2 linked regions of the Homo sapiens genome follow. The protein of the gene in region 1 purifies or fractionates together with the protein of each later gene. This does not show direct contact. Each region holds a gene or a part of one and is shown in the gene's direction. Other genes may lie near its edges.

Region 1 (3,847 bases):
ATTTTGGAATAATTTTAGGCTTATACAGAAAAGTTGCAACAACAACAAAAAACTCCCCAGAGTTCCTACATACCTTGCAGCAATTATTACAGTGGAATTTTTTTTGAGACAGGTCTCAGGACTTGCTGTCACCCAGGCTGGAATGCAGTGGCTCACTCATAGCTTACTGCAGCCCCAACATCCTGGGCTCAAACAGTCCCCCTGCCTTACCCTCCAGAGTAGCTAGGACTACAGGCATGTGCCACCATACCCAGCTAATTAAAAAATTTTTTTCTTTGGGAGGCCGAGGTGGGTGGATTGCCCGAGCTCAGGAGTTCGAGATCAGCCTGGGCAACATGGCGAAACGCTGTCTCTACTAAAAATACAAAAGACTAGCCGGGCGTGGTGGTGTGCACCTGTAATCTCAGCTACTCGGGACACTGAGGCACAAGAATCACTTGAACCTGGAAGGCGGAGGTTGCAGTGAGCCGAGGTCTCACCACTGCACTCCAGCCTGGGCAACAGAGCGAGACTCTGTCTCAAAAAAAAAAAAAAATTTTTTTTTTGTAAAGACAAGATCTCACTATGTCGACCAGGCTTATCTCAAACTCCTGCCCTCAAGTGATCCTCCTCGGCCTCCCAAAGTGTTAGGATTTACAGGTGTGAGCCACTGTGCCCTGCCTAGAATGATGTTCTAATGGTAATTTTTCTTTTCCTCACTTTTTTTGCATTTAATAATTGGAATTCTTCTGTAAGGAAGAGCTGTTCCTTCTCTCCGATTGATTTATTTATTTGGTTATGTCTGAAATAGACTCATGGATATTTTTATTCTTTGGGCTATATTTTAAAGGATTACTTATTTCTCTGCTTTTATTTATTTTTTTAAATTTGAGACAGGGTCTTGCTCTGTCTCCCGGGCTGGAGTGCAGTGGCACAGTCGTACCTCACAGTAGCTTTGATCTCCTGGGCTCAAGTGATCCTCCAGCCTCAGCCTCCCAAGTAGTTGAGACTTTAGGCATGTGCCACCGCGTCTGACCAATTTTTAAATTTTTGGTAGAGATGAGGTCTTGCCCACACTGGTCTCAAACTCCTGAGCTCAAGTGATCCTCCTGCCTCAGACTCCTACTTTTTTTCTTTCAGTTTTAATTTTTTATATAGCATTTTAAAAACTTAAGGAAATTTTCAGTTACCCGAAGGTGGAGAGAACTGTATGATGAGTCCCATGTTTCATCTATTTTTACTAGTTATCAACATTTGGACAGACTGTTTTATTTATTCCAGCCTCCTGCCTTTTTTGTTACCGGTGTTTTAAAAAATTATTATTTACTATTTATTATTATTTATTTGAGACATTCTTGCTTTGTTGCCCAGGCTGGAGTGCTGTGGCAAGATCATGGCTCACTGCAGCCTCCACCTCCTGCGTTCAAGTGACTCTCCCACCTCAGCCTCCCAAGTAGCTAGGACTACAGGTGTGCCACCATGTCCAGCTAGTTTCTGTATTTTTAGTAAAGACAGGGTTTTGCCATGTTGCTCAGGCTGGTCTCAAACTCCTGAGCTCAAACAATCTACCTGCCTCGGTCTCTCATAGTGTTGGGATTACAAGTGTGAGCCACTGGGCCTGGCCTTGCTGGAGTGTTTAAAGCAAATCCCTAATATCTTATTATTTCATACCCAAGTCCCTATCATGACATCGTTTTTTAATTGAAAACTTAAACATTTTATATTATACAAGGAGAATTAGCACATGGTGGTGGGGGAATAAATAAATAAGGAAAAAGACAATAAGAATAATCTGTGTTTCTACTGCCCAGATATAATCAGCGTTAAAATTTCATGTTATCTTTTCAAGCTTTTTTGGTTATAAATAAGCATATAAAGCAAATTTTGGGGTGGAAAAAAATTTCTTGTGTTTTTATTTAAATGCCTACTGAATCCATTCTGTGGATGAACTGAACTACTCAGCCCTTCCATCTGCCTGGATGCTGAAGATGCTTTCCATTCTTTGCTCAAAGCTGGGCAGCTCTGAGCTGCTGGTGCCTTCAAGCTGTTTGCCTGAGTGGCAGGTCATCCTGCAGGGCCACACCGTTGGGTCAGAGGCCACGGCTTCTGAAGATCTGTTGCCTCACAGTGAGCACTATGTGCCTGTCACCTGAGCATGGCAGCTGCTGCTCTAGTAACCAGGCACTGATTCAGTTTCCCCAAAGCAGTGGTAGCTAAGAGAATTTTTCTTTCGGAAGAGTTTCAGCTGTGGCAGGGGAGTCCCGTGCCCTTCCCAACGCCCCTGTTTTTGTCACCTTCCTAGGCTTGGAGAACCCCCTGCCTGAGCGTCCCCGGGAAAAAGAAGAACCAGTGGTTCGAGAGACAGGTGAGGTGGTCGACTGCCACCTCAGTGACATGCTGCAGCAGCTGCACAGTGTCAATGCCTCCAAGCCCTCGGAGCGTGGGCTGGTCAGGCAAGGTGGGTACTGCGGGGCCCTGGGCGGGGCAGGATTGCTTGGGGCATCTGGAAAAGGCAGGAGGAGGCTTGGCCAACAAAGCACTGGTGACTTGTTCAGGCCCTGTCTGCATAGGACCATTGGTTTCCCCATTTCCTGATATCCAAGGCCCTGCTTCCGTGGCTCCTGCCGCCTTTTCTGATCCGTCTTTTTTACTCTAGCACCTCGATGTGCCACCTTCATACGCTGTTTCTTTTGCTCAGTAAGTTCCTATTGTATCTTCAAGACCCTTGAAATAACAGACCCAGATGTACTGCAGCCTCAGGGCTTTCTCCCTGGTCCTGGCACGAAAGCACTTCTTCCAGACACCACATGGCTCACACTGTGGCCTCCTTCAAGTGTCTGCTCCAGTGTCAGCTCTGTGAGCATCTCCCTGGCCCCTCTGCTGGTGCTTCTCATCCTCTTGCCCACTGCATAGTTCTCCATAACACTTCTCACCCAACATAGTCCAACATGTCCTTCTTTGTTTATTGGATTTAAATTAAGGGGTTTGTTGCATGCACTGAACGTAACATTTTGATGTGTTTGCAACTGGCTTCTGTCTTCACAGTTTCTTAATTACTCCAAACTGGAAAACTAGATGCCTCTGACTCTTACCATGATAGAAGTCACTGATATTTTGCCCATACTTAAATTGATTAGTCTTTGCCCCTACAACCACAGTGTAAGCTCCGTGGAGGCTGGGGTTTTGTCTGTTGCTCACTGAACCTGCAACAGTGCCTGGCACGGTAGGCCTTCAGTAAATGGGTCAGTGGAATGAAGGAGTGAGTGGAACTTGGTGCGCTGTGCTGAGACTTTCTCTGCAGAGATATCTGTGCTGCTGCTTGTCTGAGCCTGCTGGCAGCAGAGGCCCTGCTTTGCTCTTCTCTGGGGCCCTAGGCCTCTCAACTGAGCCCAGGTGGGGTGCCCAGCAGGCTTCCCTGTTCCCTGGTGTGGGCCACATGTGTGGAGCAGAGGGGAAGAGGCTGGTCCTGACCAACTAACTGTCTGTCTGTTTCTGTCTCAGAGGAGGCTGAGGATCCTGCCTGCATCCCCATCTTCTGGGTCAGCAAGTGGGTGGACTATTCGGACAAGTACGGCCTTGGTAGGTTTCTTCCAGAACAGGTGGGTGACTCAGGCACAGCCAGGTGACCTTTTCAGTTGTTACAGACTCTGGCCTTTTTGAGCTCCCAGGTACTGTTCTCAGTGCCCTCCTCTCTCCATCCCAGGCCTCCCAGTTCCAGCTCCCAGTGCTCCCTGACTCCCCAGCTTTTTTTTTTTCCAGAGACAGGGTCCTGCTCTGTAGCCCAGGCTGGAGTGCAGTGGCACAATCATGGCTCACTGCAGCCTCAAACTCCCAGGCCCCTAAGTAGCTGTGACTACAGGCGTGCACC
Region 2 (3,500 bases), on another chromosome or scaffold:
AGTATTACTTCTATGGTGAGGTTATTGTTCATTTTATAATATTAGGTTATAAGACCTGTATTTACAACCATTAGTTATTTTAAGAAAACATGAAAATGCTAAACATTTCTAGACTTAATATTGTTTTCTTTTTCACCTGAGAAGCTGTGGTGTGCTGTTGGAGTCAATTTATCTGGTGGGAAGACCAGAGATGGTGGTTCTGTTGTTGGAGCAAGTGTATTTTACAAGGATGTTGCTGGTTTGGATACAGAAGGCAGTAAACAGCGAAGTGCCTCTCAGAGTAGTTTAGATAAGTTAGATCAGGAACTTAAGGTAAGTGTGTGTACTAACATTTGACCTGGTTTATGAGACTATGAGTTTAACTCTTTCATCCAAAATTTGCCTCTGGGTCCAGCTTCTAATTGGGATTACTATGCCCTGGCTTACTGTCCCTCAGCACCCTTTTAAAATCAATTTTAAAATATTGAGGTATAATTTACATGCAATAAAGTGTGCACTCGAAATGGGTATAGGTCAGAGTTTTGACACATGTGTACACGTATGTAATCACTACAGTGATCAAGCTAATGGAACATTTTATCATTGTTCTGCTTTACCTGTTAGTTTTGTGTTGCTGTTTAGAGACAGAGTCTCACTCTATCACATAGGCTGGAGTGCAGTGGCATGATCATGGCTCACTGCAGTGTTAACCTCCTGGACTCAAGTGATCTGTCCACTTCAGCCACCCAAGTAGCTGGGACTACACACCCACACCACCACACCTGGCTAATTTTATTTTTTGTAGAGACGAGGGTTTCACTGTGTTGACCAGGCTAGTCTCACACTTCTGGCCTCAAGCAGTCCTCCCACCTCAGCCTCCCAAAGTGCTGGGATTACAGACGTGAGCCACTGTGCCAGCCTAACTGCTAGTTTTTCATCTACTAATTAATATTGATAGGTGGTTGTATTAGTCTATATTCACACTGCTGATAAACACATACCCGAGACTGGGAAGGAAAAAAGAGGTTTAATTGGGCTTACATAGGTAACCTCTGGGGAGGCCTCAGAATCATGACAGGAGATGAAAGGCACTTCTTACATGGTGGCAGCAAGAGAAAATGAGGAAGAAGCAAAAGTGTAAACCCCTAATAAACCCATCAGATCTCGTGAGACTTATTCACTATCACGAGAATAGCATGGGAAAGACTGGCCCCCATGATTAAATTACCTCCCCCTGGGTCCCTCTCACAACATGTGGGAATTCGGGGAGATACAATTCAAGTTGAGTTTTGGGTAGGGACGCAGCCAAACCACATCAGTGGTTGTATTTTTACCCTTCCAAATAATCTGGAAATAAATTTGAAATAGTATTGCCTTTTACTGTAACAGCACCACCTTATGAATATTTGTACATACATATTGTTTTAAACATTTTTCCTCCTTTGCCTATACAGGAACAGCAGAAGGAGTTAAAAAATCAAGAAGAATTATCCAGTCTAGTTTGGATCTGTACCAGCACTCATTCGGCTACAAAAGTTCTTATTATTGATGCTGTTCAACCTGGCAACATCCTAGACAGTTTCACTGTTTGCAACTCTCATGTTCTGTGCATTGCAAGTGTGCCAGGTAAGAGTGAGTCATGCGTTTCTCTGCCCTCCCCTCCATCCACCTACCTGCTGGGCACTGATGTAGCAGCTGAAGATGCAGTTCTGCACCTTGCTGTCATGAAGCTTATGTTCTAGTTAGGGAAGATTAAAAAACAAACTGGAAACCATTGAATAAAGAAGATATTTTCAGGTAGTGAAAAATACTGTGAAGAAAATAAAACAATGGGAATATGAGAAAATAACTGGGAGCCAGAGGACTGTTTGGATTAATTAATAAGGAAAGGTCTTCTAAAGTTTTGGATTAAACATTATGTGATGTTAAAACATTAGTTTAAAAATTAAAGAAGTGTATGTGATATATCCATATGTTGGAATATTATTCAGCCATAAAAAGGAATGAAGTTCTTTTTTATATTTTATTGTGGAATACTTAATATGAGTTCTACTTTTTTTTTTTTTTTTTTTTTGAGACAGAGTCTTACTCTGTCACCCAGGCTGGAGTGCAATGGCATGATCTCGGCTCACTGCAACCTCCACCTTCCAGGTTCAAGTGATTCTCCTGCCTCAGCCTCCCGAGTAGCTGGAATTACAGGCACCTGCCACCACGCCCGGCTAATTGTTTGCATTTTTACTAGAGACGGGGTTTTACCATGTTGGTCAGGCTAGTCTTTTTTTTTTTTTTTTTTTGAGATGGAGTCTTACTCTGTCACTCACACTGGAGTGCAGTGGCACCGTCTCGGCTTACTGCAACCTCTACCTCCTGGGTTCAAGTGATTCTTTTGCCTTAGCCTCCCAAGTAGCTGGGACTACAGGCACGAGCCACTACACCCGGCTAATTTTTGTATTTTTGGTAGAAATGGGGTGTCACCATATTGGCCAGGTTGGTCTCGAACTCCTAGACCTCGTGATCTGCCCGCCTCGGTCTCCCAAAGTGCTGAGATTACAGGTGTGACCCACCACCCCGGGCAGTCAGATTAGTCTTGAACTCCTGACCTCAGGTGATCCACCCGCTTCGTCCTCCCGAAGTACTGGGATTACAGGCATGAGCCACTGAACCCAGCCTGAGATCTACCCTCTTAACACATTTTTGTTTTTGTTTTTTTGAGACAGGGCCTCACTCTGTTGCCCAGGCTGGATTGCAGTGGTGCAGTCACAACTCATTGTACTCATTGCAGCCATGACCTTCCGGGCTCAAGTGATCCTCCCAGCTCAGCCTCCCAAGTAGCTGGGACCACAGGCGCACACTACCACACCTGGCTAAGTTGTTTGTACTTTTTGTAGGCAGGGTTTCACCATGTTGCCCAGGCTGGTCTGGAACTCCTGGGCTCAAGTGATCTGCCTGCCTTGGCCTCCCGAAGTATTGGGATGCCCAGCCCTCTTAACAAATTTTTAAGAGTACAATACATTATCCTCTAGGTAGAAGTTCTGACACATGTTATAACACAGATGAACCTTGGAAACACTATGCCAAAGGAAATAAGTCGGACACAAAAGGACAAATATTATATGATTCCGCTTATATGAGATATCTAGAATAGGCACATTCATAAAAACATAGAGTTTCTGTGTGAGGTGATGGAAAAGCTTTAGAAATAGGCCGGCCATGGAGGTTCACACTCATAATCCCAGCACTTTCAGAGGCCAAGGTGGGACGATCACTTGAGCCCAGAAGTTTGAGACCAGTCTGGGCAATATAGTGAGACCTCATTCCACAAAAAATCAAAAAATGAGGCGGGAGGATAACTTGAGTCGGGGAGGTCAAGACTGCAGTGAGCTACGATTGCACCACTACACACCCACCTGGGCAATGGGAGTAAGACCCTGTGTTTTAAAAAAAAAAAAAAAAAAAAAAAAAAAAAGACCTGGCATGGTGGCTTACACCTGTAATCCAGACACTTTGGGAGGCTGAGGTGG

The links. The genes of interacting proteins can lie anywhere in the genome.
Region 2: the proteins of PLK1 (region 1) and SPAG9 purify together in Homo sapiens (affinity purification with mass spectrometry; 8 studies listed by BioGRID and IntAct, with this or other methods). This does not show direct contact.

What each region holds. Positions count from the first base shown.
Region 1 is NC_000016.10:23,685,188-23,689,034, forward strand, and holds part of PLK1 (serine/threonine-protein kinase PLK1), read left to right. Parts: intron 1-2,281; coding exon 2,282-2,437; intron 2,438-3,480; coding exon 3,481-3,558; intron 3,559-3,847. UniProt on the Homo sapiens protein: Serine/threonine-protein kinase that performs several important functions throughout M phase of the cell cycle, including the regulation of centrosome maturation and spindle assembly, the removal of cohesins from chromosome arms, the inactivation of anaphase-promoting complex/cyclosome (APC/C) inhibitors, and the regulation of mitotic exit and cytokinesis.
Region 2 is NC_000017.11:50,991,869-50,995,368, reverse strand, and holds part of SPAG9 (C-Jun-amino-terminal kinase-interacting protein 4), read left to right. Parts: intron 1-144; coding exon 145-312; intron 313-1,433; coding exon 1,434-1,605; intron 1,606-3,500. UniProt on the Homo sapiens protein: The JNK-interacting protein (JIP) group of scaffold proteins selectively mediates JNK signaling by aggregating specific components of the MAPK cascade to form a functional JNK signaling module.